Linked DNA regions of Homo sapiens. The protein of the gene in region 2 purifies or fractionates together with the protein of the main gene of each other region. This does not show direct contact. Each region holds a gene or a part of one and is shown on either strand. Other genes may lie near its edges.

Region 1 (7,024 bases), on a different chromosome or scaffold from region 2:
CAACTATAATTGTGAATTTGCCTGTTTCCCCATTTAGTCCTGTTGGTTGTTGCTTTATCTCTTCTCTAAAACTATATTTTAACTGACTTTTACTGATTTTGAAATGGATTTTTTCTTTAGGAAAACAAAGTGTTAAAATGTAAACCAACCAGAGATAATTTTAGTGAGCAGTGTTGAATTGAGCCTTCAAACTTGTTCATGAGTCGTGATCAATCTTTGTCACATTATTATACTAAAAACTATCTCAGAGAGGAAATTTATAGCCAGTTACAGTTTTTTTGTAGTTTGATTTAAAAGTTAAATTTATCACAACGAATCATATATTTTTCATGTTACTATTCCTGTTGTATAAAAATTTTACTAACAAATTTAAAAGGTGAGAAGAGATCAAATTATTTTGCAATTATAAAATTATCATTAGTTTAGCCTTTGAGAATATAGGTAATAGATTAAAAATTCATTTTAAAAATGATATAAACTACTTTTGAGACTTCCTCTGTAACTGACCTTTTCCATTTATGAAAAGCAGACACTCGCCTATGGGGACATGAACCACGAGTGGATCGGCAACGAGTGGCTCCCCAGCCTGGGCCTCCCCCAGTACCGCAGCTACTTCATGGAGTGCCTTGTAGACGCCAGGATGCTGGACCACTTGACCAAGAAAGACCTTCGAGGGCAGCTGAAAATGGTCGACAGTTTTCACAGGTAACTTAATGGAGATAGTTCTTAATAATTGGCTAAGATTTTTCACTGTTACCATCTCTAAATCATCTCTCTTTTCTTCCAAATAGAAACAGTTTCCAGTGTGGAATTATGTGCCTGAGAAGGTTAAATTATGACCGGAAAGAACTGGAAAGAAAAAGAGAAGAAAGTCAGAGTGAAATAAAAGGTTAGTACATGACATTTAATTGATTCGGTTTACTCCTACTTGCTGGTGTGTTTGGAGCCTCAGTGACTTCCTATTTTTCAAAAAATCAAGAAAGGCTAAATTTAAGTGGAGAAAACTAACTAGTCTAGTGTCATTGCAGAGGAGGGCTGGATGAAGTTGAGTGCTTTTGAGATTCTCTTCCACAGCTAGAGAACTGTTCCCTGTGTTCTCACACATCAGTCTGGAGGTTAAATGTCTCCGGCTAGTCGTTTCCTGTGAGTTGAGAGTTTTCCTTTGGTCATGCCCTGTGTACTCCTTCACTCCGAAATGCTGTTCCACACTGTTAGATAACAACAGAGCAAAGCTCACTTGATGATTCAAGTGTGAGAAATATGACTGGGGGCTTATCCAAGGGGTTCAGGAGAACAGGAGAGCACCGTGCAGTTCTGCTCCCGGAGGGGAAGGAGAGGCAGCGTCTGCATTTCAGCTGGTCCTTGAAGAAGGAGGAGGAGCTGCTTAGGGTAAGGAAAAGGCATTTCAGTTGGAAAACACAGGCCAGGGAGGCGTTAGAGGATGTGAGACATTCATCCAGAAGACGTGGAGTTGGTTCTCTTCTCCGTTGGGGAGTCCCTCACTCGTACTCAAATTTATTTGTTTGTTTGTTTATTTATTTATTTAATTTATTTTGAGACAGGGTCTTGCTCTGTAGCCCAGGCTAGGCTGGAGTGCAGTGGTGTGATCACAGCTCACTACAGCCTTGAACTCCTGGGCTCAAGTGCTCTTCCTGCCTTAGCCTCCCTAGTAGCTCCTGGGAGTACAGGTGTGCTCCACCATGCCTGGAATTTTTTTTTTTTTTGTAGAGACAGGGTCTCGCTATGTTGCCTAGGCTGATCTCGAACTTTTGGGCTCAGGGGATCCTCCCACCTTGGCCTTCCAAAGTGTTGGGATTACAGGTGTGAGCCACCACACCCAGTCAGAATTTGCTTTTAAAATTAGACAGTAAACATTAAGCTCAGAGTAATGACTCCCAGAATTCCTGGAATGCAAGGAAGTCACCAATAACAATAATGATAAGAAGAGGCCAGTCTTACTAACAGTGAGTAGGTGCCAGGTGGTGTTCTAAGTACTCAGGGGTTGCTTTCTTTCATCTTTACCTTAGCCCTGTCAGTCTAAGTGCTGTTTTCATCCCCACTTTATACTAAGAAAGAAACTAAGGATAAAAATATGGTTGGGAGATGGCCCAGTTGAAGGGAAGTCTACTTGTGATTGAGTTAATGTGAATCAGGAGAAAAGTCGTAAGTCGACATTTATACAGTGTGTGTATATGTATGGACTTTTATCCAGAAAAGGGCATTGGCAATGAAATATGTCCATCTGTTTTGTTTTCTGTATCTATTTTACATCTTTTTCCAATAGACAAAGATCTTTGGAAGTGTCTTTGGAAGTGATTGGTGATCATCTGCATATATTTTTAGAGTGGCTATTTTTAGATCTAATAGAGCAAATTGAATAATTTGTTAATTTGCATAAGATATTGTGGCTGGGCATGGTAGCTCATGCCTGTAATCTCAGCACTTTGGGAGGCCAAGGCAGGAGTATTGTCTGAGCCCATGAGTTCAAGACCAGCCTGGGGAACATAGTGAGACCCTGTCAGTACAAAAAAATTAGCTGAGCTTCGTGACACACGCCTGTAGTTCCAGCTCCTCAGGAGGCTGAGGTGGGAAAAATCACTTGAGCCCAGGAGGTTGAGGCTGCAGTGAGCTATGATGGTACCAGGCTGTATCCAGCCTGGGTGACAGAGCAGGACATTGTCAAGAAAAAGAGAGGAAAAAAAAAGATTTTCTGCAAAGTCTCTAATGTGCTGGATGATATTGTTAAGTTTCTCTCATTTTAAAATGAGACAAAGACTTCGAGATTAGAAATGAGAGGTTTCTGTTGAATTGAGCAAAGTGTTCATATTATTATGGAGCCAGCTCCATCCGTGATGAAGTATTTCAGAAGACTCTCCAGTCTGTGTGTGAAGCATGTTTATACATGTTAGGTATTCAAGTTCTTGCAGTCCTCTGGCTTCTGATCCCTGGATCCTCATCATCTTCTTTTCTCTAGAAATAATAACTTCATTCCTCTCGTGCTCACTGGAAGGATGAGTTCTAATGGGAGAGTCTCCCTGAGAGTGGAGCAGGGCCAGGACACCATTGTCTCAGTGCAGCAAATGGTTGTCTATTTAGCAGTGTCTCCCAGCACTTTTCTCAGGAGCCGAAGGATTAGGAACCATGGTAGGAATCTTTCTCCTGCATTACAGGGTACATGTGATAAAGATGGCTTTCTGAAGCCACTTTTATAATTGTCTTTATTCTTTTGCAGACGTGCTTGTTTGGAGCAATGATCGAGTGATTCGCTGGATCCTGTCAATTGGCCTTAAAGAATATGCAAACAATCTTATAGAGAGTGGTGTTCACGGAGCACTTCTGGCCTTAGATGAAACCTTCGACTTCAGTGCACTGGCACTGCTGTTACAGATCCCGACGCAGAACACACAGGTGACGCCAAACCTGTCTGTGTCTGCACTCATTGTTCAGTTGGCACCCTGATTATAGACAGCTAGTTATTCGAATAGAAAGAAACTTTAAAAAAAAAAAAAAAAAAAAACTTCAGACAACTAGTTTTTGGTTTTTTTTTTTTTTTTTGGTCTATTGGCTTTCCCTTTTCTGTTGGAAGCATGAGAGTCCTGCAATAAACCAGATAAGGACGATCTTTCATTCCAGCCCATGTGCCTGATCAGAAGAGTGACATATATTTAGTTCTTACATGGAAAGAGAAGTGTTTTTAGGTGTGCCACATGAAGATTTTATTAATTTTGTTTTTATGGGTAATTGCCTTATGCCATTCTTTTTGACTCATGGGCTCATTTGAAAAACAGGGAACTTTTATTCCTCTACAGAACATTGAATATGCCAGGCAAGGTGGCTCATGCCCACAATCCCAACACTTTGGGAGGCCCAGGTAGGCAGATTGCTTGAGTCCAGGAGTTCGAGACCAGCCTGGCCATCATGGTGAAGCTCTGTCTCTACAAAAAAATACAAAAAAATTAGCCAGGTGTGGTGGCACATGCCTGTAGTCCCAGCTACTTGGGAGGCCAAGGCAGGGAGATTGCTTGGCCCGGGAAGTGGAGGTTGTGATGAGCTCTGATTGCGCCACTGCACTCCAGCCTGAGTGACAGAGTGAGACCCCCATCCCAAAGAAAAAGGAAAAAAAAAAAAAAAAATTGAATATCTTTGGCCAATACCCCTGACCAACCCACACAACACACCCTTGTTAATATGACTCCAAGGATCATGGATCCCTTTCTGCAAAAGCCCATCCATTGACTCCACATTAGATGCCCTGATTTAAAATATTATTATGGTTCAATGTAGTCATAGCAGTGAGGGAGTTGTTTTTTTGTTTGTTTTGAGATGGAGTTTCGCTCTTGTTGCCCAGGCTGGAGTGCAATGGTGCAATCTTGGCTCACTGCACCCTCTGTCTCCCAGGTTCAAGTGATTTTCCTGCCTCATCCTCCCAAGTAGCTGAGATTACCGGCACACGCCACCGTGCCCGGCTTATTTTTGTATTTTTAGTATAGATGGGATTTCACCATGTTGGCCAAGCTGGTCTCAAACTCCTGATCTCAAGTGATCTGCCTGTCTCGGCCTCCCAAAGTACTGGGATTACAGGCATGAGCCACCACACCCAGGCCCTAATTTTTGTATTTTTAGTAGAGACGGGGTTTTACCATGTTGCCCAGGCTGGTCTTGAACTCCTGACCTCAGGTGGTCTGTCCGCCTTGGCGTCCGAAAGTGTTGGAATTACAGGCGTGAGCCACCAGACCCAGCCAGCAGTGAGGGAGTTTAAGTCTTGGTTTAAAAAACAATTACGATGCTAACACCCTTCAAATTAGATTTGATGAAAGTTTTATTTGTTTTTCTTTGGTTATTTCAGGCTCGTGCTGTCTTGGAAAGAGAATTTAACAACCTTTTGGTCATGGGGACTGATAGAAGGTTTGATGAAGTAAGTTTTTGGCCTAATGTTCTTTAAATGTCTGAAATGTGTGTAAATGTTTAAATGTGTGTGAAATGTAAGCTGTTATTATTATTATACTTGGGACATCATGTAGCTAGGCAGTCTCTCTGGATGTTAGAAGTCAGGCTTTGCTCTTATACATTTATTCACAAATGAGCCTTTAAAAACTAATACCTGGGCCGGGCACGGCGGCTCGCACCTGTAATCCCAGCACTTTCGGAGGCTGAGGCGGGCGGATCACCAGAGGTCAGGAGTTTAAGACCAGCCCGGCCAACATGGTGAAACCCCATCTCTACTAAAAAACACAAAAATTAGCCGGGCGTTGTGGTAGGTGCCTATAATCGCAGCTACTTGGGAGGCTGAGGCTGGAGAATCGCTTAAACCTGGGAGGTGGAGGTTGCAGTGAGCTGAGATCGCACCACTGCCCTCCAGCCTGGGCGACAGAGAGAAACTCCATCTCAAAAAGAAACCCCCTCCCCGCAAAAAAAAAACCCACAAAAGTAATACCTTCAAGAAGGTAGTTTTGTTTTTATTTTTGCTATTTAATTTTTGACATCCCTCAAAAATGGTTTTCACATCATAAAACATTGGTTGCAGCTTAGGAACAGAGTCTGTAAGTTGGGTTTTGGGGACCAGTAGTTATCCTACCCCAGTCCAGAGTGTACCCCCATACTCCTGTGCATGGGTGGGGTGGCATGTTTCAGAAGTATATTAAAAACACAAAATGTTAATTTCCCCTTAAAACCATGACTCATTTGTTCCACACGATTAGGAGTCTCTTAATTGGACCTTAAGAAAAGTTGAGTTTGACAGAGAGAATAGAAGACCACCTCTAAAGATGAAGCACTTGTTGCTATATCCTGGCATAAGATAAAATTGTTTCTAGTTAAAAATTGTTTGTAGAGCTGCGTGTGGTAGGGGCACACCTGTAGTTCCAGCTACTTAGGAGGCTGCGGTGGGAGGATGGCTTGAGCCCAGGAGTTTGAGGTTACAGTGAGCTATAATCACACCACTGCATTCCAGCTCGGGCAACAGATCTAGACTCTGTCTGTAAAAACATAAATAAAAATGAAAAATAAACTATTTTTAAGATAAATAAAAACGTATTACGTTGCAAGAAAGTGATTCCTGCAAGGTGTAAGAAGTAGAACATGATGCTGTGGAGAAGGAGCACATCCTCATGGCCCAGCACCGACCTCATTTCGCCAGCTGAGGCCCAGCCGGACCATCACCATGCCCCGTTTCACGCTGAAGTTCCAGGTTGGGCAATATATTGTGTGGTCATCAAGAAGGGATTAAATACATGTGGACAAGAATACATTCTCGAGATCAGCAGTCATTTTAAAGGACATGTAACTTTACATCTCTGACCTTTATTTTTTAAATGAATCTTGTTTTTTGTTCCTTAATTTACCAGGATGATGATAAAAGCTTTAGGAGAGCACCTTCATGGAGAAAAAAGTTTAGACCAAAGGACATTCGTGGCTTAGCTGCTGGGTCAGCAGAGACTCTCCCTGCAAACTTCCGGGTGACTTCTTCTATGTCTTCCCCCTCTATGCAGCCAAAGAAGATGCAGATGGACGGTATGTGATGGGTCACACTAACCTGTCACTTGTTGGGAGCATGAGCAGCTTTCTGTCTGGAACATTAATAATGATCTAAAACGGCCTATTTAATATGTTACAAGGCACTTGAGTATGGTTGCATGTCCAAATATAAATGTTTTTAAATTAACTCTAACATTTGTTTATAAAAGTTTAACCATAATAATAGAATTTTTAAAACACGCTTGTCTGGTTGAATCTTAGCATATTTTTCCAACTAATAAAGCTCAGTATTCGTCTGTGTTCTCAGAGAGAGACTGAGGCATACTTGTAAATTTGTGTCTGTGACAGGCCGTGCTAGAAAGCTCTTTCAGGAAATAGTAGTGTAGTAGTAGCTTCCAAACCACATAATTTACTGCTCTCCACACCAGAGAAAATAACTGAGTACATTTTTAAGAACACACAGTTTCCAGCTTGTGTGAGCTCTGCCTATGCTTTCTGCCCTCCCTGCTGCTGCTGTTCCGTGCAGTCACATGTCTACCCATTAGAGGGC
Region 2 (7,608 bases):
CCCAAATGTAGTTTGGACGTGTTCAGGGTGGGGGAGGAGATTGACAGAGGTGGAAAATGACTTTCCATTTTTAAAGTCTGATAAAGTTAAATTAACACCATCTCTCAGGCAGACACCATGTAAAAATGAATTTTAAGACCCAAGGGAATCATGAAGCCTCTGGGCCAGTCTATGAGCTTCCCCCTAAAATTCAATTCTTGACCCAATATACAGAAATGCCCTTCTCACTGTTTTTGGTTGCTATTTAGACAGTTTGTAAGAACTGTGTAAACCCTTGATTCCTGGGAAACTAGCAGAGCTAGGAGTCAGGGTTAGGGTATCAAAACAACAGCTGAGAGAAGCCTTGCTCTCTCACTCAGTTTTCTGGAAATCCTCATCTCAATTAATATCCTAGTAACTACTTTTTTTTTTTGTCTCCTTGAGACAGGGTCTCTCTCTGTCACCCAGGATCACGCCCAGTGGTGTGATCATGACCCACGGCAGCCTTGACCTCCCAGCCTCAAGTGATCCTTCCATCTCAGCCTCCCGAGTAGTTAAGACTACAGGCCTGGCTTTTTTTTTTTTTTTTTTTTTTGGTAGAAACGAGGTCTCACTATGTTGCCTAGGCTGGTCTTGAACTCCTGGCTTCAAGCTATCCTCCTGTCTCAGCTTCCCAAAGTGTTGGGATTACAGCCATGAGTTACTGCACCCAGTCCCTACCACTGCTTTTGACCAAGGGACTCTGAATACTTGTACCACCAAGAGATCCACAACCTAGTCACACTACTAAGCACAGTTTGAAGCTATGGTTGTGGTTTTTATCCAGCCGTGGGAGGATCTTGCTTGGGTAGAAGCTGTCAAGGAGAGGGGAGGAAAGGAGTTAACCAGAAGCCAAACAGCATTAGCATGGTATCACCAGCCTTCCAACCAAGCTCTTAGTGCTTCACGAGAGAATGGAGCATTTTGTACCAGCTAATATTTTGGAAAGAACTCTGCAGGAGTGGTGTTAAGTTATGAAAGAATTTGGCCAACTCCCCTAAATTAAACCGGCTTTTATGGTTGGGCATGGTGGCTCACACCTGTAATCCTAGCACTTTGGGAGGCCAAGGCGGATCACTTGAAGTCAGGAGTTCGAGACCAGCCTAGCCAACATGGCGAAACCCAATCTCTACTAAAAATACAAAAATTAGCCGGGTGTGGTGGCAGACGCCTGTAATCCCAGCTACTAGTAGGGAGGCTGAGGCAAGAGAATTGCTTGAACCCGGGAGGCAGAGGTTGCAGTGAGCCGATATTGTGCCACTGCACTCCAACCTGGGCAACAGAGTGACTCTGTCTTAAAACAAAACACCAACAACAAAAACTAGCTCTTACAACACACAGGACATATGTAGCCACTAAGCATCAGCAGGGCCTTACCAGCAATCTGTACCACCTGGTTTCTCCAACACACTGTCTCCACAGACATAAGTCTTCCAGAGTCAAGGATAATTTATAATCCAATGGAGCAGCTGATTTAGTCCAGTAGCTCACACTAGAGTGACTAAAGTTCAGGCCTGCACAAACAAACAGCACCAACACCTACCCCACCCCCTTTTCTTAGTGCTGGGACATCAAAGTAAACACACAGGGGTTACTGAATGCAAACATCCTTGTACACATAAAAGTAGTGATGCTGGAAATGGAGAGGGTGAAGGGAGAAGGCTGGGCCAGCAAACCCCAAAACGACCAAACTGCATTTTTTAGAAACTAAATGTTACTTCTCCCTAACTCCTATTTCATCCAACCTTCACCTGTCACAACTGAGGTCTGGGTTTAGGATTACAGCATCCGATACAGACTATATTTCAAAAGAGAGAGAAGCGGGGCCGGGTGCAGTGGCTCACGCCTGTAATCCCAGCACTTTGGGAGGCCGAGGTGGGCGGATCACGAGGTCAGGAATTCGAAACCAGCCAGCCTGGTCAACATGGTGAAACCTCGTCTCTACTAAAAATACAAAAATTAGCCGGGTGTGGTGGCGCGTGCCTGTAATCCTAGCTACTGGGGAGGCTGAGGCAGGAGAATCGCTTAAACCCACGAGGCGTTAAGTTGCAGTGAGCCAAGATCACGCAACAGCACTCCAGCCTGGGCGACAGAGCGAGACTTCGTCTCAAAAAAAAAGAAAAAAAAGAGAGAAGCAAGTCAGCTGTTCCTTTAATACACACAAACTCAACTCCCTTGACCAGAGCCCCAACATCTGATCATGGGTTCCAAGCCTAGGTTTCCCCTCCTAAAAAGGGGAAGGAAGCCACAGCCCAGAAAAGCAGTGGGAGACAGACCACAGGCCACAGTGATGATCAGAGGGGTCAGCCACTTCTCAGCCATTATTTAGTCTGTAAAATGGAAATGGGAATAACAACAGTACCTATCCTCAGGTGCCGGCGAGGGGTACTAGAGAGAATTACGTCCAAAAAGAGCAGGGCCGGGCATTAGGCATTTGGGGAGAGCAAGCTATTATTGTCTTTACTACTACTGTTCCACCGTCCCAGAAGAGACCCTGCTGAGACCCGAGACGAGCAACTGACAGGCAAATCGGGCCAGTTGGAGCGGGTATCTAGTGCCTGGAGCCCAGCGAGCCGAGAGGACGAAAGAGGTGAGGAGCTGCGGGCGCAGGGGCGTGAGAGACTGAGAACAGGTGGGAAGAGCCCAGGAGAAAGCAAGGATCAGCGAATGGGGTCCTGACAGAGGACCCCAAACTCACCCAGCGTGAATTCCCATTGCTCGTTCCCCAGAGAGCGTTCGGGCACTACCTCCAGGTCCAGCATTGGTTCGGCTCGCCTGGCCCGGGCGGCCTCCCTGCGGCAGCGCAGAAGGGACCCGAGCTAAGGAGACAAAGCAGCGGCTGACAGGCCGCCCCCGCCGGCCCGCCACAGCCCCGCTTTCCACCTCCTCCCCGGCGGCAGCGGCAGCAGCACCGGCCCAACACCACACCTCACCTCACTTCACCTCACCTGCAGCAGCCGCGGCAGCGGGGGCAACGACGGCGGCGGGCGCGACTGCAGTAAAAGTGGCGTGCCGGGCCGTAAAGCGCGGGGAGGGCCGGGCGAAGGCGGGAGTGCCAGCGCGAGGGAGGAGCCTGGGGCGGAGCCGCGCACGCGCAAACTGCGGGTCCCGCCGCCGTCTCTGCGGAGGCTGAGTCGGGCAGGGCTGTAACGTTGGGAACTGTTCGGGCTCTAGGAGCAAGGAGCCCAGTACTTCGTGAGCCCCTACATCTGTGCACCACAGCACACACACTTCACATATCTACATAAAGAAGGGTTCACCACACAACACACACGTCACACAGCTGCACAAGACCCGTCTGCTGTCTACACACACGTCCCACTCACGTTCACTGGTAGCAGAAGGCAAGTACAGAGGGCACGCTGAGGCCCAGCAGGAGGGAGGACGCGGAGTCCCTAAGCCTCACGGCCCCCACCGTCTCCGTTGGGGCCGGAGGTGACGCTGGCCGCAGCAGCTTTTAGTTGTTCAGGAATGACGGCCCCACCCAGTCGCCCCTGGGGCAAGGGTCGAACCGTAAGCGAGTGAGGACTGTGGGCGTTAGGGGTCGGAATTGGTTCGGGGAGAGGACTGGGTAGAAGAGGAAGGGGCCAGGCCAGGCCTCCCTGCTGACCACATCCAAATGTGCGCAGTCCCCCGGGACCAGGATCCGAAGCCGCCGGCAGCAGCGTGGACCAAAGCTGTGGGGGTCTTGATCAACCCCTTGGCGCTTTCTGTGCCACAGTTTTCCTAATCTGCAAGGGACAGGAAGGTTCCTCTAGCAGGTTCAGCCTGAGGTTTTGGCCCGTGCCCCGGGACACCCTGAAACTAAAGGACAGCCGAGGCCTATGCTGATGCCAAGCCTTCACGGAGGCAGTCTCTGGGTTCTCACAACCAACCTGAGATGCGAGATTATACCGACTTTACATAGGCGAATACATGAGGCCCAGAGATGTTAAAGACCCAAGGCTCCTTGGTTCTAGGCGCAGAACCCAAGTCCTTTCCATTACATTGCCCCTGGAAGAAGGTTTTCAGTAGGGGAGAGAGTGGCATACTAAATTCTCAAACTGGCTTGATACTAGCGTTTCTTTGGAGGCTCTATCAAAATTTGAAGTCGCTGTTTGATTAAAATGAACTACATGGAGAAGGTTGTCCACTGCAGCATTGTATGCCAAAACAACAGAACTGGGTCACTGAGATGTCCAGTAGGGAAGTGGCTAAATAAACCGTGATATAGATAGATAGATAGATAGATGATAGATAGATAGATAGATAGATAGATAGATAGATAGATAGATAGAGATATGTTTTTAAAGGTGAATGCTGAGAGCAGTGCTCACAGCGGTAATACCAGCACTTTGGGAGGATGAGGTGGGAGGATCGGTTGAGCCCGGGAGTTGAGACCAGCCTGGGCAACATAGCAAGACCCAGTCTCTATTAAAAAAAAAAATTAGCTGGTGTCATGGCAGTAGGTTGGGCCAGGAGTCCTAGCTACTCAAGAGGCTGAGAGGTGGGAGGATAGCTTGAGGATAGCTGCAGTGAGCTGTGATTATTGAGCCCCGGGGCTCCAGCCTGGATGACAGAGCAAGATCCTGTCTCTAAATAAATAAATAAATAATAAAAAGTGAAGTAGGTCTCTATGTTGATGTGGAAGGAACTCCAAGAGAAAAAAGCCAGGTGCAGAAGTATGCATACCATGACCACCCACCACCCCCCTCCCCCGGCCTTTTTTTCTGTAAAAACAAAAATAAAAGAAACAGTGGCTGTACCAAAAAGAAAGAACATTTCTGGAAAAATAAAACATTGTCAATCATACCTAATAGAGTGGCAGAGGACAGGAATCAGGGGGTCATTATTCCTTATCATGACAAGCATTAAAGATATGTTTAGAAAAGCCTAGTTGGGCAGCTGGGCTAGATAGCTTGGGAAGGAAATCTGGGGAAAAATCTTAAGATTGGTGAGGAGCAATCTTAGTCAATTAAAAGTGTCTGGCTGGGCGCGGTGGCTCACGCCTGTAATCCCAGCACTTTGGGAGGCCGAGGCAGACAGATCACCTGAGGTCAGGAGTTTGAAACCACCCTGGCCAACATGGTGAAAACCCGTCTCTACTAAAAATAGAAAAAATAGCTAGGTGTGGTGGTGCATGCCTGCAGTCCCAGCTACTTGGGAGGCTGAGGCACGAGAATCACTTGAATCCAGGAGGTAGAGGTTGCAGTGAGCCAATTATCACCCCACTGCATGCCAGCCTGGGCAACAGAGCAAGACTCTCTCAAAACTTGGAGGGGACTTATTTCTGGAGGAGAAAGATGGGTGGGGCCTAAATTGGGGTGGGATAAGCCCAGTGGGGTTGTGGGATAAGCCCAGTGGGGTTGTACCAGAGGCAAGACAAAGAAGAAACCACATCATTCTGGATAACAAAGTGAAAAGGATTTCTAATTTGGGTAACCCCCAAACAGAAAGAACAAAGTTGTCGGGGAGCGCCCTAAGAAATTCCCTGTTGGAATAGTAGGCAGATTTCTGTGAACAATGTTAGTCAACAACAAAAGTTTATCTGGCCAGGTGTGGTAACTCATGCCTATAATCTCAGCACTTTGGGAGGCTGAAGTGGGAGGATTGCTTGAGGCCAGGAGCTTGAGACCAGCCTGGGCAATATAGCAAGACCCCGTACACACACACACACACACACACACACACACACACACACACACACACGCCAGATGTGGTGGCACATGCAGGTAGTCCCAGCTACCCAGGAGGCTCAGGTGGGAAGACCACTTAAGCCTGGGAGTTTTGTTGTTGTTGTTGTTGTTGCTTTTTGTTTTTGTTTTTGAGACGGAGTCTCGCACTCTCGCCCAGGCTGGGGTGCAGTGGCGCCGTGGCGCCATCTTGGCTCACTGCAAGCTCCGCCTCTCGGATTCACGCCATTCTCCTGCCTCAGCCTCTCGAGTAGCTGGGACTACAGGGGCCCGCCACCACGCCCGGCTAATTTTTTGTATTTTTAGTAGAGACGGGGCTTCACAGTGTTAGCCAGGATGGTCTTGATCTCCTGACCTTGTGATCTGCCCGCCTCGGCCTCCCAAAGTGTTGGGATTACAGGCGTGAGCCACCGCGCCCGGCCGAGCTTGGGAGTTTGAGGCTGCAGTGAGCTATGTACTGCACTCCAGTACAGCCTAGGCAACAAAAGAATGAGACTGTATCTCTAAAAAAATAAACAGAAGTTTATCTTTGCTCATTTAATGTTGATTCACCCAGGTTTTTATCCAAGGTGGGAATAACAGCTTTGGGATGGTGATATTAGGAGGCCTTGGCCCAGAGCCCAATACACACACACACAATAGAAGCAGAAGGTGCCTGGCAGGAGCAGGCCAACTCAGGAGAATGTCAGCTACAGCCATTCCCCCAAACTGAGGGTAGGGATGTTCAGAAATATGGAATTGGCTAATGAAAAGCATATTCAGGGAGGGCAAGTAGTCATGGTAGCAGTCAAAGCCAGACATGCAGGGACAGCTTCAGGTCAGAACATGGTGATTAAGCTCAGGGACTCAAAATTTGAATCCCAGTTCTGCCACTTAATAGCTTTGTGCCTTGACAAGTTAATTAGCCTCTCCATGCCTTAGTTTCTTCTGTAAAATCTGTAACAATCTCACAGATTTGTTAGGAGGTCTGTACTTGTGTGTCTGGCTTACAGGTAATTGCTTTGTGTATAACTAAAATTTTAAAACATCTAATAGTAACAGAATTGATGGAATCCACTGGCAGGATTTACAGATTGCATGTGGGAGATGAGAGAGACTGGGAGTCAAGAATAACGACATAGTTTTCCCAGCTTGGGTAGCTGGAAGGACGGTGATTGGAGGAACTGACATTGGCGTTTGGAAGGATGTCAATCCTTCTGGTAAAACTGTCACGTGATAACTTGGAAGGGAAGAAATGTAACAAGCTTGAAACATTACTTGAAGAACTTGGAAAACAATCTTAGTACCATGGTTATTTATTAATTGCATTTGCCAAGTTATTTTTTTTTCTTTTTTTTTTTTGAGACGGAGTCTCACTCTGTTGCCCAGGCTGGAGTGCAGTGGTGAGATCTCGGCTCACTGCAACCTCCGCCTCCCAGGTTCAAGCGATTCTCCTGCTTCAGCCTCCCCAGTAGCTAGGATTACAGGCACGTGCCACCATGCCCAGCTAATTTTTGTATTTTTAGTAGAGACGAGGTTTCACCATGTTGGCCAGGCTGGTCTTGAACTCCTGTCTTTAGGTGATCCACCTGCCTCAGCCTCCTAAAGTGCTGGGATTACAGGTGTGAGCCACCGCGCCCAGTTAGATTTTTTTTTTTAAAGCCAGTTTGAAAGCAGGAATGACAGGTAATGTGTACAGCAAATGAGGGATGGGGCTAAAAGTCATGGAAAATGGTGGAGCAGGGAACCCATCCTAATAGGCCTTACAAAGAACACTCCCCTCTGTTAGGGCAGAGGGCCCTCAAATGGTTTCCAGTGTCATTTCATAATTGTTACTGACCGGTGACTTCATTCTTCCCCTTTCTGAAGGCAAGTGCTTCCTGCAATTTTTCTGTCCCTGTCCCACCACTGTGTACTGGGTGCGTAGATCCTGGTCTCC
Region 3 (7,024 bases), on a different chromosome or scaffold from region 2:
AAAAGAATAAAAAATAAAAAATAAATGATCTAAATGCTACATCTTGGGGCCGGGCGTGGTGGCTCATGCCTGTAATCCCAGCACTTTGGGAGGCCCAGGCAGGCAAATCACCTGAGGTCAGGAGTTCGAGACCAGCCTGGCCAATATCCTGTCTCTACTAAAAACACAAAAAATTAGCCGGGTGTGGTGGCATGCGCCTGTAGTCCCAAGTACTCGGGAGGCTGAGGCAGGAGAACCGCTTGAACCCAGGAGGCAGAGGTTGCAGTGACTCGAGATTGCGCCACTGCACTCCAGCCTGGGCAACTGAGAACTGGGCAACTGAGAAAGACTCCGTCTCAAAAAAAAAAAGAGGAAAAAAAAAAAAAGCTACATCCTGGGGACGGGCACAGTGACTCATGCCTGTAATCCCAGCATTTTGGGAGACCCAGCAGGCGAATTACCTGAGGTCAGAAATTTGAGACCAGCCTGGCCAACACAGTGAAGCCCAGCCTCCACTAAAATTACAAAAATTAGTCTGGCGTGGCGGCAGGTACCTGTAATCCCAGCTACTCAGGAGGCTGAGGCAGGAGAATCGCTTGAATCCAGGAGGTGGAGGTTGCAGTGAGCTGAGACCATGCCACTGCACTCCAGCCTGGGTGACAGGGCAAGACTCCGTCTCAAAAATAAATAAATAAAAGCTACATCTTAGAGTATAAGAGTATTCTATATGATATGTTATCAACTTTATGTGGTAATGATAGCTTATAGTTCTATTTCTGGGATACTCTGTCTTACATTTAAGAACTCACTCTGACATGCCAGGGAGCTACCCTTTAGGCAAGTGGATTTCTGCAAATACGAATGGTTGCATGTGGCCAGGTGCGGGGGGCTCACACATGCAATCCCAATACTTTGGGAGGCTGAGGCAGGCAGACTGCTTGAGCCTGGGAATTCGAGACCAGCCTGGGCAACATAGCTAGACCCTGTCTCTACAAAAAGTAAATGTTTTTTAAAAAATGGTAGCATATATGGAAATAACTGAAAATATTAATCTTTCAAGGTAACATATGGAAATAACTGAAAATATTAACCTTTCAAAAGTTAGCAACTTTATAAATCTTGAGTACCTTTTCTGCTTATTCTCTTCAATTAGCTGAGCTCTGTGATGTTGCCATGTATGTGACGGGAAACACTAAAAACATGGTTCCCAAACTCTCTCTCTCTACACGATGTCTTCCCCATGCCCCAACTCTACTAAGCTCACAGGAACTGAAAAGATCTGCCTAACTGTACTCCCTCCCATCTCCTGACCTTCTCTTACCCCCCTCTTTCTAAACTCCAGTAAGAAGAGGTAAGGATCTACGTGGCTTTTAAAGTTTAACTTTTTAATAGAGAAATTATCATAGTATAAACCATACCAAAAATAACTTTCCAGAGGCAGAAACATACCTACGAAGCTGCAGATCATTACGCTGATATGAATGACTGCTTGAAAGAACAATGACTCTGGCACAGCCACTGCTTTTCACCCAGGAAAGCAGTTTTTCACAGAATGGCTTTGATTTATACTTTGCACACCATTGAGAGAATAAAAAGAAAATCTAAAAGTTAGTCTTAGAGCATACAAACATTCTATATACTATTTCATCAACTTTATGTGATAATGATATATAATTTATATATACTGAAATTATTTTCAGATCCACTTACTGTGCTTAAACCGAAAGTGAATGATAAAGAGCAATGAATTATCTAATGTATCTTTATAATTAAGAAATCAATGGCCATGCATGGTGGCTCACGCCTGTAGTCCCAGCACTTTGGGAGGCAGGCGGATCACCTGAGGTCAAGAGTTCAAGACCAGCCTGGCCAACATGGTAAAACCCCATCTCTACTAAAAATAAAAAAATCAGCGGGGCATGGTGGCAGGCACCTATAATCCCAGCTACTCAGGAGGCTGAGACAGGAGAATCACTTGAACCCAGGAGGTGAAGGCTGCAGTGAACCGAGATTGTGCCATTGCACTCCAGCCGGGGGAACCGAGTGAAACTTTCTCAAAAAAAAAAAAAAAAGAAAAAAGAAAAAGAAAAGAAATCAATGAATCATGAGGAATCTAGATTTCAAAAAAAATCTATTGTGATGGACAAAGGACAATTTCCCAGTTCTCTACTTGAGTAATCTATTGTTACCTAATAACCAATACATGGTCATCTGTGAAGGGTTCTTGCCAGAAATTTGTGACCCGAATCTGGTCACATGGAAACAATCAGATGAATGGAGAATGCTCCACATCCAGCCCCGGTTCCTCAAAGGAGTCAATATTGTAAAGAAAGAAAGAGGGGCAGGCCAGTTTTACTCTGAAGGATAACAACTAAAAAGATGTAACAGCCAAATACAACCTGTGAACCATCAATGGATCCAGAATTGAAGGATACTTTCGGAACAGCTGTGGAAATTTGAGTATGTTGGATGATACTCCTGAATAAATTCATTAAATGCTGGTTTTCTTGGGTGTGGTAATGGTGTCCTGTTCTTGAAAGATGTGTGCGGAAGTATGTAGGGGTGACCATTGCTAGCCTACTTCTGGATTGTTTCGAAGAAGGAAACTGTGTACGCGCATAGCGAGAGATCAAGTAGGTGTGGCAAGACATTCACAGCTGGTAAATCTGGAATGTGGGTTATAAAATTTCAGGGGGAGCCCGCTTTATGAAAATTTTTCAAAGACTGCTCATAAAATAACTACTCAATAAAATTTAAAATGCAGGTAAGAGAAATGCAGGCTAACTTTTAAAATAAGAAGGTAGTCTAGTGCAGCAGTTAAGAGAGGCAGGCTCTGGGACAGGCAAGGTGGCTCACTCCTGTAATCCCAACACTTTGGGAGGCCGTGGTGGGCAGACTACTTGAGCCCAGGAGTTAAAGCCCAGCCTAGGCAATATAGTGAGACCCTGTTACTACAAAAAAAAAAAAAATTATTACACATGGTAGTGCACGTCTGTAGCCCCAGGTACTCAGGAGGCTGAGGTGGGAGGATCATTTGAGCCTCGGAGGTCAGGGCTGTAGTGAGCCATAGTTGTGCCACTGCACTCCAGCCTGGGTGGAGTGACACCCTGTCTCAAAAAAAAAAAAAAAAAAAAAAGTAAAAGAAAAAAGGCAAGCTCTGGAGCCAGGCTGCCTGGGTTAGAGTGCTGGTCCTGCCTCCCTAAGATCATGTGTCAGGCAATTGCTTAATCTTTCTGTACTTCAGTGTTTCCTTTGAAAAATAAGGATAATATTAGTATCTGTCTTATAGGTTTGTCATGAGGATTAAGTAATAAATATAAGGTACTTAGAACAGTATCAGCACAAAGAATCAATGCTCAATAAATGTTTGCTATTTTGAAATTAGTCTTGTGGCCAGGCACGGTGGCTCACGCCTGTAATCCCAGCACTTTGGGAGGCTGAGGCGGGCAGATCACAAGGTCAGGAGATCGAGACCATCCTGGCTAACACGGTGAAACCCCGTCTCTACTAAAAATACAAAAAAATTAGCCGGGCGTGATGGTGGGCGCCTGTAGTCCCAGCTACTCGGGAGGCTGAGGCAGGAGAGTGGCGTGAACCCAGGAGGTGGAGCTTGCAGTGAGCCGAGATCATGCCACTGCGGTCCAGCCTGCGCAACAGGGCGAGACTCCGTCTCAAAAAAAAAAAAAAAAAAAAATTCACTCTTTACTTCCAGCTGCCAAAAATTTATATTATACGTTAAATAATTTTTCAACTTACACTGATTAGAAAGAGAACAAAAAGCCATGTGGCACAATGTAAAAATGTTACCAACTCTAACTGCAAAACTTTGGGTATATAATGTTAACTAAAGAAAGCAGTGATTCTAGTATAAGAATTAAAAATAATCTTAGCAGCACTATTCATGATAGTCTCAAACTGGAAATAATCAAATGTAGCATCAAAAGTACCATGGAAAAATTATGGCTTATGTATACAACTTAACACCACAGAGAAATGAGAACGAATGAACTATGGCTACTTCCAACAACATGGGTGAACCCCGCAAAGGGAATGTTAAGAAAGGAAGCTAGATGCTGTAAGTATATACCACAGAATTCCACCAATAGAATACTGACTAGGACGCATTATGGGGTCCTCTGGAATGCTGACAATGCTCTATGTCTTGATCTGAAAGCTGGTTTCACAGAGGGTTTACTGCATGAAAATTCACCAAGCTGTATATTTATGATTTGTGCACTTTTCTCATGTACGTCATACTTCGATAAAAAGTTAAAATAATGGCTGAGCACAGTGGCTCACGCCTGTAATCCCAGCACTTTGGGAGGCTGTGGTGGGCAGATCACCTAAGGTCAGGAGTGTGAGACCAGCCTAGCCAACATGGCAAAACCCCAACTCTACTAAAAGTACAAAAAGTAGCCAGGCGTGGTGGCGGGCACCTGTAATCCCAGTTACTCAGGAGGCTGAGACAAGAGAATTGCTTGAACCCAGGAGACGGAGGTTGCAGTGACCTGAGATCACGCCACTGCACTCCAGCCTGGGCGACAAGAGCAAGACTCCATCTCAAAAAGAAAAGTTAAAATAAAAAGTACTATGCAGTTAACCATGTCACTAAAATCCTGTATTTCTAACCTCCTGAAAAGATGATACCTCAGGTCATTCCAAAAAATCCCTTAGCAAATATTTACTGAGAGCTTCTCTATGTGCATGACACTATCTTATGAGCTGGGGATATAAAAGTAAATGACACTTCATCATTCCTTTCAGAAGCTTACTTTCGGCTGGGTGTGGTGGCTCACACCTGTAATCCCACTACTTTGGGAGGTTGAGGCGGGCAGATCACCTGAGGTCAAGAGTTTGAGACCAGCCTGGCCAACATGGTGAAACCCCATCTCTACTAAAAATACAAAAATTAGCCAGGTGTGGTGGCGGGCACCTGTAATCCCAGCTACTCAGGAGGCTGAGGCAGGAGAATCGCTTGAACCCAGCAGGCAGAGGTTGCAGTGAGCTGAGATTGCACCACTGAACTCCAGCCTGGGTGACAAGAGTAAAACTCTGCCTCAAAAAAAAAGAGGGCCGGGCACAGTGGCTCATGCCTGTAATCCCAGCACTTTGGGAGGCTGAGGTGGGTGGAGTGGGTGGATCACCTGAGGTCAGGAGTTTGAGACCAGCCTGGCCAACATGGTGAAACCCCATCTTTACTAAAAATACAAAACTTAGCCGGGCACAATGGCACACGTTCGTAATCCAGCTGCTTGCGAGGCTGAGGCAGGAGAATCACTTGAACCCAGGAGGCGGAGGTTGCAGTGAGCTGAGATCACGCCATTGCACTTTGGGGAAGCTGAAGCATGAACTGCTTGAGCTCAGGAGTTCAAGACCAGCCTGGGCAACATGGCGAAACCCCACCTCTACAAAAAAATACAAAAATTAGCCGGGTGTGGTGGTGCATGCCTGTAATCCCAGCTACTCGGGAGGGTGAGGTTGGAGAATGGCTTGAGCCTGGGAGGCAGAGGTTGCAGTGAGCCAAGATCACGCCACTGCATTCCAGCCTGGGTGACAGAGCAAGAGAGACCCTGTTTCAAGGAAAAAAAAAAAAAAAAGGAAGAAAGGATTGTTTAGGAGGGCCTTTCTCATGAAGAAACATTTAAGAAAACAGTAAAGGAGGCAAACCATTGGAGTCTCTAAGAAAATGAATTTCGGCAGAGAAGCTAGTGGAAAGACTGAGACAGGATGAGCTTAATGTCTAACAACACAGGGAAGCCAGTGTGGCTGCAGGTTAGGCTCTGCAAAGCAGCAGTCTGGCAGAGCTCCTGTGAGCATGACTCTTGTTATGCTGGCTTTTTGCATATGGGGCTCCTGCGAACTTGGAACGTGAGGAACTGAATTTTAAATTTATGAATTAAACTGTAAATAGTTACATGTAGCTAGTGGCTACTGTATTAGCACAGATATACAGCCTCATAGGCCACAGTAAGGGCTGTGAATTTGAAACCATCCTCAAAGAGTTAAAGAAACCAATGACTAACAAATTCTTGAGTTTGGACTGGGCGTGGCTTACACCTGTAATCCCAGCATTTGAAAGGCCAAGGTGGGTGGATCACTTGAGGGCAGGAGTTGGAGACCAGCCTGGCCAACATGGCAAAACCCCGTCTCTACTAAAAATACAAAAATTAGCCAGTGTGGTGGCGTGTCCCTGTAATCCCAGAGGCTGAGGCAGGAGGATCACTTGAACCCAGGACGGCAGAGGCTGCAGTGAGTTGAGATCACATCAGTGCACTTAAGCCTGGGCATCAGAGGAGACTGTCTCAAAAAAAAAAAAAGAAAGAAATTATTGAGTTTGCAGGGTAGCAGATAAGAAACTACTTGGTAAAATACTGAAACTTCCTCCCCTTATGGGATAAAAGAACTGGCTGAAATTGGTTGGAACCAATATGGCCAAGTAGAGTCTGCAGAGAACAAGCTTCCTGGTGTCGCAAGCTGACTCTCCATCACGTTTCATACTCATTCCCCTGAATTGGCACATGAGCCCTATGAGTTAGCATGAGGAGATAACTGTGCATGCCCAAGGACCTTCCAGATGTCCCCTTTCCTTCCATCGCTCACCTACTGATCTCAGAATCCACCCTCTGAACCTTTTCTAATAAAAACACTGCCTTGAAGTCAGCACAGGGAGGCAGATTTGAGGTCGACTCCTGTCTCCTTGGGAGTCAATTTGCAATATAAAGCCTTTCTTGTCTCAAAAACCTGGTGTCACAGTGCATCAGGAAGCGAGCCCCTTTTCCTGGATCACAATTTTGAGTGAGAGGAGAAGCCACTGGAGGGTTTCAAAGAGAGTAGTGATGTGGTGTACGTTTAGAGGATCATCAGTGCTGCTGTTTGTGGGAGGCAGATCAGCAAGTTAGTCAGGGGCATGAAGATGACACTGGTTTGCACTCAATGACAGCAGTGGAGGAGGAAAGAAGTCGGATTCAGAATATTTTATGACATATACATAATTTGATATATACATAGTTTATATGTAGATGCCACCAGCTGAAAGGTAATACAA
Region 4 (7,024 bases), on a different chromosome or scaffold from region 2:
TACATAAAAATGTTAACCACAGTGGTGATCTCTAGATTGCAGGAAAATAATCTTAATTTGATACTTTAAGCTTTTCTGAATTAGTAAATTGTATATAATGAAGATGTATTACTTCTGTGAGAAAAAATTATTTACAAAGCATTTAACACCAATATCCAGACAATGGGAAAATGCATATTTACATTAAAATCAGGCCTGCCTAACAAACCCAAGATCTCCTTCCTGCAACACACCGTGTACCATAAAGGTTTATGTATGAAGCCCAAGGATCAAGATAAAATATGGTTTCAGTGCAAATACTACTAAATGGGTAGAAATAACAAAGGATTTTATTCAAGTGGTCACTTACCTATTTTCCCCCTATGAGCCAGTAACTAGAACTCTGGACATAGCAACACATGGCTAATGTAGAAGCGGCCACAACAAAACTAATGCCGAAAATTAGGTGCTTATAAGAGAAAAGGCACAGCTCAGTTTAACTTTTCAGCTTTGAATCAAATACTTCTCCACATCAAATACAGGACATTTCCATCTCTTATTTCAGCAGCAGTGTCAGTTGTTATGGAATTGCTTTTGTTCTAGTTTTGCTTTTTTAAGTGTTGTTTTTGCCTTCTCCTTTCTAAGCACAATAAGAAATAGACATTAAGTTATTTTCTCTCTTGGATACTTGCAGCTGGGGTTTACCTGGCCTTTCAGGCACAGCCTTTAAGACTTCTAAAATTCACGACCAAAGGGAAAAAAAAAAAAACTCAAGCCAGAAAAAAAGCCTACTTAAAGTGTTCAATACAAATTAATAGTGCCAAGGGCAGGGACTGTCTAAACAAAGTTATGTAAACCCCTAGTCCCAAGCTCAGTGCCAGTTCCCACTCATCCAAGGACTCAACCAAGAGATAAGGCAACCCATTTGATTTAGATTCATGTGGTCAGATACTCTTTTCCATAGCAACCTCACAGTAGCATCGAGTGCCCATTTTCTCCACTCCATAAAATAGTACAATTAGATGATAAACAAAGAACAGTTTGCACAGAAAGTCAAAGATGATTTGCTTCAAACAGATAAAAATGAGAGAATGGAAACATTGAAAAGAAGATCATGTTCCCTCTAATAAAGAGATGCCTTGAGGGGATGGGGCTTAAATAAAAGACTAAACTTTTTTTTTTAAAGGAATGCCTGGACAAGCAATTTAAGGGACTCTTCAGCCTTCCAAAAAAATACAACAAATAAAGGAAAATATTATGACTTAACACACAAAATTTAAAAAGAGGGTAGGGAAAAAACTTAAAATGTAATAGCAGTTAAAAAATGACCAAAAAAACTCCACCAATAAACCTTATGTGCTTTAAACATCAGCCCTTCCTACAATTATCAATTCTACAGCAATGATTCAACTGACAGCAACAATACTGGTAGCTCACGGAAGTTCAGCATTAGAAAGGTAGATCATTATTTTTTATTTTTATAAAGATTCTTACCAGCCACCTGCTTTTTCTTAGGCTTAGCCTACATGTTTTTGGGAAACAGTGCTAATTTGTATGGCTGCTACAGGAGACTACAGGAAAAGATGGTAAAATAAAAAATGTGCCCCAAAAGGTGTCTTAAATGTAGTGAGTGTTCAAGTAAATATTTGTTGAGTAAAAATCAAGCACATTCAGAAAGATACTCACTGTTAGAAGCTATGTCAATCAAAAGAGTTTCTTCTGCTTCTGAGAGGGGAAAAAAAAGAGAGTAGGATTAGGGAAGAGAAAACCACTCACTACAACCAAAAGAATACATGCCTAACTAAATAACTGCTTCTCTCAGTCACTACTCCTAGGTCTTAGAACATATTTTTTTAAATCCCTTTTCGTTTAATATTTTTTAAAGGGATTTTTTATAGCACTGGGTTCTAAAGACTATGAGCAAATCAACTAAAATAAAAATGAACTGAAGAAGTAACCAAATGGAACTCCTCAAAGCAAATCAACGAATGAGAAATTAATAGTACAGAACATAACAACATGTTAATTCAGCGAAAGCAAGTTTAATTCCCCTTAACTGTAACATAATGATTTAACTCTGGGTCCTTTAGATACTTCTTTAGATAACAGAAGGCAAAGGAAGTGACCCTGAAAGCCCAGAGGTGAATTACTTTCTTAACTCAGATCTATTCTCTGAAAATTTCCCAGTGATCTCATCACCTCTGCCCCTGCCCCACACATGGGGGCAGAGTATACCTTCAGGTTACAACTACTACCTGTGGGCCCAAGGCCCTCCGTACCAAACAGGGTGCAAAGCAGTCTGCAAGTTTGGATTTCTCTTATCTCTCAATGGTTCTCCTGGACTTCTTCCTTTACAACAAGTGTCTAGACCCAACCTATCTCTTCCCCTCTGATTTCTCTGGATTTGACCAAGTGCACCTGCCAGACCCTCCTGGCTAATTGAACTCTGGGTACTGACTCCTTGGGATTAGCCTGGATCTACCTTGGTCAAATGGAGTAGTCTCACCTTTTTCACCTCCCTCCCAAGACTGAATTGTTTATTTGGCTCCATTACTCAGGTACAACAGAAGCAACTGGCAAGGAACTAACTCCTTTAACACTAAAAAGTAGTCTCGATATTATTATTAGGATGATTAAACAAGGGGAATTAGGGCATCAAGACATAGATATTGTATGCTTACTACTGTTCTTCATTAACTTTTAGTTCTGTAAAACCTGAGTGTTTACAGATGGTTTTCTTTTTCTTTTTTTTTTTTTTTTTTTGAGACGGAGTCTTGCTCTGTCACCCAGGCTGGAGTGCAGTGGCACGATCTCGGCTCACTGCAAGCTCCGCCTCCCAGGTTCACACCATTCTCCTGCCTCAGCCTCCCGAGTAGTTGGGACTACAGGCACCCGCCACCATGCCCGGCTAATTTTTTGTATTTTTAGTAGAGACGGGGTTTCATCGTGTTAGCCAGGATGGTCTCAATCTCCTGACCTTGTGATCTGCCCACCTTGGCCTCCCAAAGTGCTGGGATTACAGGCCTGAGCCACCGCGCCCAGCCGGTTTTCTTTTTCTTTAGAGATGGCCTCACTCTCTCACCCAGGTTAGCATGCAGTGGCACAATCACAGCTCACTGCAGCCTCGAACTGCTGGGCTCAAGCAACCCTCCTGCTTCAGCCTCCCAAGTAGCTGGGACTACATGTATCTGCCACCACGTCTGGCAAATGTTGTTTTTTTAATTTTATTTTTGTACAGATGGGGTCTCGCAATGTTGCCCAGGCTGGTCTTGAACCCCTGGGCTCAAGCAATCCTCCTGCCTCAGCTTCCCAAAATGTTGGGATTACAGGTGCAAGCCATCGCGCCTGGCCACAGTTTACAAAATAGATGCAGGGGTCAGGAAATAGAAAGGAGATGAAAATCAAAAGTAAGTCTTCCTTTAGTCATGGGGAACTACGTTACATGTGTGCACATATTTTCCCAGGTTCTAAGAAGCAGCACTACGATCTAACAATCAGCAATTGATTTCTTATTAAAAATACTAAGAGAAACAGGGTAAAAGAGATCCTAGAGGTAGAGTAAAAAGGTACAAAGCTAATAGGATATTAATTTAAAGTCATGTTCTTTGGCTCTTCCCCTCTGTGAAGGCCTACACCTTGAAAAGTGAGGTGGCCACAGCAACTTACTATGGAACGTGGCTACCTTGTTTAGTATGTCTCTCTCACATAGGGCAGGCTAAATAGCTATCACTTCATTCTTCCATACAAATATGGACACTATTCATTGAAGTTATTTTTAATTCTTAACACATGCATTCTTAAAAAGTCATATCCACTAGCTTAGTATTTTCACTTATAGGAATACATCCTGAGGAAATAAGAGATGTGCAGGTATATTTAGGTGCAGAGATGTTCATCATATTACTATTGATACTAGTGAAAAATAACCCAAATGTCAACATAGGGGAATAATTACATTATGGACCATTCATAAACTGGTATGGTATATAGCCATTAATGGCATGGAAAAGTGCTCATAATACAATAGCATGTAGAAGAGACAAAAAATTGTATAAGATGAGTATCACTCACCCTGCAATGTATGTGTAGAAAAAAGGAAAATGCTAGGTGTTTATCTCTGAAAGGATGGGAATTTAAGTGACCTATTTTCTTTACACTTTTCTGTTCTTTCCAAATGTATTACATTATGTACATGTCACTTAGTGATTAAAAAAAAAGTTCAATGTAGTTTAAGAAATAATCCATGCAAGGTAAGATTTAAGTTTTCCAAGAAAGGCCAGGCATGCTGGCTCACACCTGTAATCCCAGCACTTTTGGAGGCCGAGACAGGCAGATTGCTTGAACTCAGGAGTTTGAGACCAGCCTGGGCAACATGGCGAAACCCCGTCACTACAAAAATTACAAAAAAAATTAGCTGGGGGGTGGTGCACCTGCAGTCCCAGCTACTTGGGAGGCTGAAGTGGGAGGATCACTTGAGCCTGGGAAATGACCTTGTCTTGAAAAAACAAGTTTTCCAAGAAGCTACAATTGATACAGAATGCTTCTGCTAGATAAAGCCACTGGTCCTAGTGAAAACAGAATGCATTTGTTCTCTAGTATCAATTTCCTTTCTAGAGCAATGTGAGATGACAGAAGCAACACCTCCTACACAAACCTCCCAATTTTTAAGTTTCATTGTAGCAGATGAAACAACAGATTTTCTATGCTCCGTCCCCAAATTTGAGGGCAGGAGGCCAAATATTTCCTCCCCAGAGTCAATTTTCTTATGATTCACCAATGTCAAGGTTTGAGAATCAGCACAATTGAGTGTAAGATATTACAGTCTGGCAAGGCATGTTGCCAAATGTCTTAATTTCAAATAGCATGTGGAGAAAGTGCTGAATGTGTGTGAATCCAAGTGACCTTGGTACCTTATGAGCACTGTGTCCGTTAAGCCCAAGAATGTTATTTAAATCCACATATAGGTCAGTCAGCATAAAAAACTACCTACACAGGTAACAATCTACATACATCTCTAACCCAAGCCAAGGAAACAGGTGAGACTATAGACACACATATACAAATATATTTCGATATAACCCTTCAGCATTCTTAGAGAAAGTATCATCTCCTCAATGTTATCTTTTTATGCAAAGAGTAATACATTTCATTTTACATGCACTGACAAATTTAAATATGTATGGTATTACATAATGCAGTAATGACCGAGAAAAAACATTATAAAACTAGCTAAGGAATTAAAGCTAGTACCTTGAACACATCTGAAGTGGCTATTTATAGGAATGATATCTTGAACATGCTGTTCCTTCTCATGCAACTGGATTATTAACCTAGGAAACAGAAGAACGCATCAAAGAACAGCCACTGAAAAACTCATTTAGCAAAAAAATACTTCACTGTCCTGTTATACAAATCTAGTCTGTATTTACTAGACTTGCTGCATCTAGTTCCCTGGATCTGAGCATCATGACAGCTAGATATTGCTCTAGGCCTAAAAGGATGCTAGTGGTGATGAACATCTGATTACCCACACTGTTCTCTAGGCCATATATCCTAAAAACAGTGTACAAGCTTAAGAGCATGAATTACAGAGTATATAGCTTCAGAGTATGCATACCAGAGTGAAGAACTGACAGCTAGATGTGAAGTCCATGAGTGCAGGGACCACAGCTATCTTTACACCACGGAATTTCTAGTACCTAGCACAAAGCCTGGCACACAGGAGTTGCTCGTGTGTGTGGAATCAATGAATTAGAAAATTCATAAATTAACCTTCCAATTATATTCCCATGGCTTTTTACCAAAGAATGGATCTGTCTCTTCAAACAAGCATTCAGGTTCATGGAGGAGTAAGAGGGGGTGCTCAGCCAGCTGGATTGGTCAAAATATCAGTGACCAACAAGGTGGCAGATATCACAACTGGATTGCCTTCAAATCCCTTGTTTCTTCTCTGGTTTCCAAGTTTACGCTGGTATTTCTACATAAACATGAGTAAACCTGACTCCCCAGATGAAATCCATACTTCTAAATCCATACGTACTCCTGAAATATTAATTTTTCATTTATTATTTATCCTTAGTGGTCCAGAATCAAGGTACGACCTACTGGTAAACAGCCATTCTGAACGTCAACTAGCATTCTCAAAGTCAAGCACTCTTCAAGTATTGTTTTTAGTTTTTTGTCAGGAACACTCTGTTTCTTTCCGAGTTTCATCTCAAATATCACCTCCTCCATGAAACTGTCCTCAGTACCCCCAAGCAGAACCAGCAGCCTTATCGCCTTTGTTTGCCCCTCTAATAGAACACTTACACACTCCATTATGGTTATATTTATTTCCCCTCACTGATTTCAGCTCCTTGAAAGCAAAGACCAGATCATATTCAGTTTTGTCTGCAGCCTAATAGATGCTCAACAAATACTGGCTGAATAAATTAACTAGCTTAATTAAGCTATAAGCAGCGGTGAATTTTTCAATGAAACTGTCCAACTTCTGACATTAAAATGTCATTGTTTTGAAGGGTTTGATTTCTATTTTGTTGTCTTTTGGGGGTGCTTGTTGCTTTTGCTTTTTGCATTTTCAAATGTGTTAACTTTGAAGAGGATAACCTGGGATAGGATAAGTAATTACTTAGATAGAACTAAGGGAAATAAAAGTATTAATGCTGTTTTTCTGCTGTGATCCTTCTTGCCTAATTTGCAGGGGTTTGTACTCTAAGGTGATTACAGGAATATGGGGCAGGCCCCTTTCCATCTGGAAAGTTCATGAGTTGAGTGGAGAGTCCTATAAACCCAGATGGAAACCAGAAACCAGATAAAAGGCTGAGAAATCAAGGGTTAAGGAGGAAGAGCTTACTTTGAGGAAGATAAACACAAACCACTAAAATCTCAAAATACATAAACAAGAAATGGTGTTGAACATTAGCATTAAAGCTTCATCTGGACAGTACTGTTAAAAACTATTACAAAACAAATAAACTGAGAATTTAAGTGAATTTCACCAACATTTATTGAGTATTTACTACGTGTTACCCACTAAATTACAATA

The links.
Region 1: the proteins of PHAF1 (region 2) and PPFIA1 purify together in Homo sapiens (affinity purification with mass spectrometry; 4 studies listed by BioGRID and IntAct, with this or other methods). This does not show direct contact.
Region 3: the proteins of PHAF1 (region 2) and PSMG2 purify together in Homo sapiens (affinity purification with mass spectrometry; 4 studies listed by BioGRID and IntAct, with this or other methods). This does not show direct contact.
Region 4: the proteins of PHAF1 (region 2) and OCRL purify together in Homo sapiens (affinity purification with mass spectrometry; 3 studies listed by BioGRID and IntAct, with this or other methods). This does not show direct contact.

What each region holds. Positions count from the first base shown.
Region 1 is NC_000011.10:70,371,686-70,378,709, forward strand, and holds part of PPFIA1 (liprin-alpha-1), read left to right. Parts: intron 1-507; exon of another isoform or gene 508-526; coding exon of another isoform or gene 527-529; coding exon 530-705; exon of another isoform or gene 706-791; coding exon 792-889; intron 890-3,232; coding exon 3,233-3,408; intron 3,409-4,846; coding exon 4,847-4,915; intron 4,916-6,344; coding exon 6,345-6,510; coding exon of another isoform or gene 6,511-6,518; exon of another isoform or gene 6,519-6,786; intron 6,787-7,024. UniProt on the Homo sapiens protein: May regulate the disassembly of focal adhesions. May localize receptor-like tyrosine phosphatases type 2A at specific sites on the plasma membrane, possibly regulating their interaction with the extracellular environment and their association with substrates.
Region 2 is NC_000016.10:67,105,348-67,112,955, reverse strand, and holds the start of PHAF1 (phagosome assembly factor 1), read right to left. Parts: upstream 3,016-7,608; 5' UTR 2,781-3,015; coding exon 2,717-2,780; intron 1,518-2,716; exon of another isoform or gene 1,445-1,517; coding exon of another isoform or gene 1,396-1,444; intron 1-1,395. UniProt on the Homo sapiens protein: Plays a regulatory role in autophagic activity. In complex with BCAS3, associates with the autophagosome formation site during both non-selective and selective autophagy.
Region 3 is NC_000018.10:12,713,040-12,720,063, reverse strand, and holds part of PSMG2 (proteasome assembly chaperone 2), read right to left. Parts: intron 1,548-7,024; coding exon 1,429-1,547; intron 1-1,428. UniProt on the Homo sapiens protein: Chaperone protein which promotes assembly of the 20S proteasome as part of a heterodimer with PSMG1.
Region 4 is NC_000023.11:129,543,243-129,550,266, reverse strand, and holds part of OCRL (inositol polyphosphate 5-phosphatase OCRL), read right to left. Parts: intron 5,310-7,024; coding exon 5,230-5,309; intron 1,705-5,229; coding exon 1,666-1,704; intron 1-1,665. UniProt on the Homo sapiens protein: Catalyzes the hydrolysis of the 5-position phosphate of phosphatidylinositol 4,5-bisphosphate (PtdIns(4,5)P2) and phosphatidylinositol-3,4,5-bisphosphate (PtdIns(3,4,5)P3), with the greatest catalytic activity towards PtdIns(4,5)P2.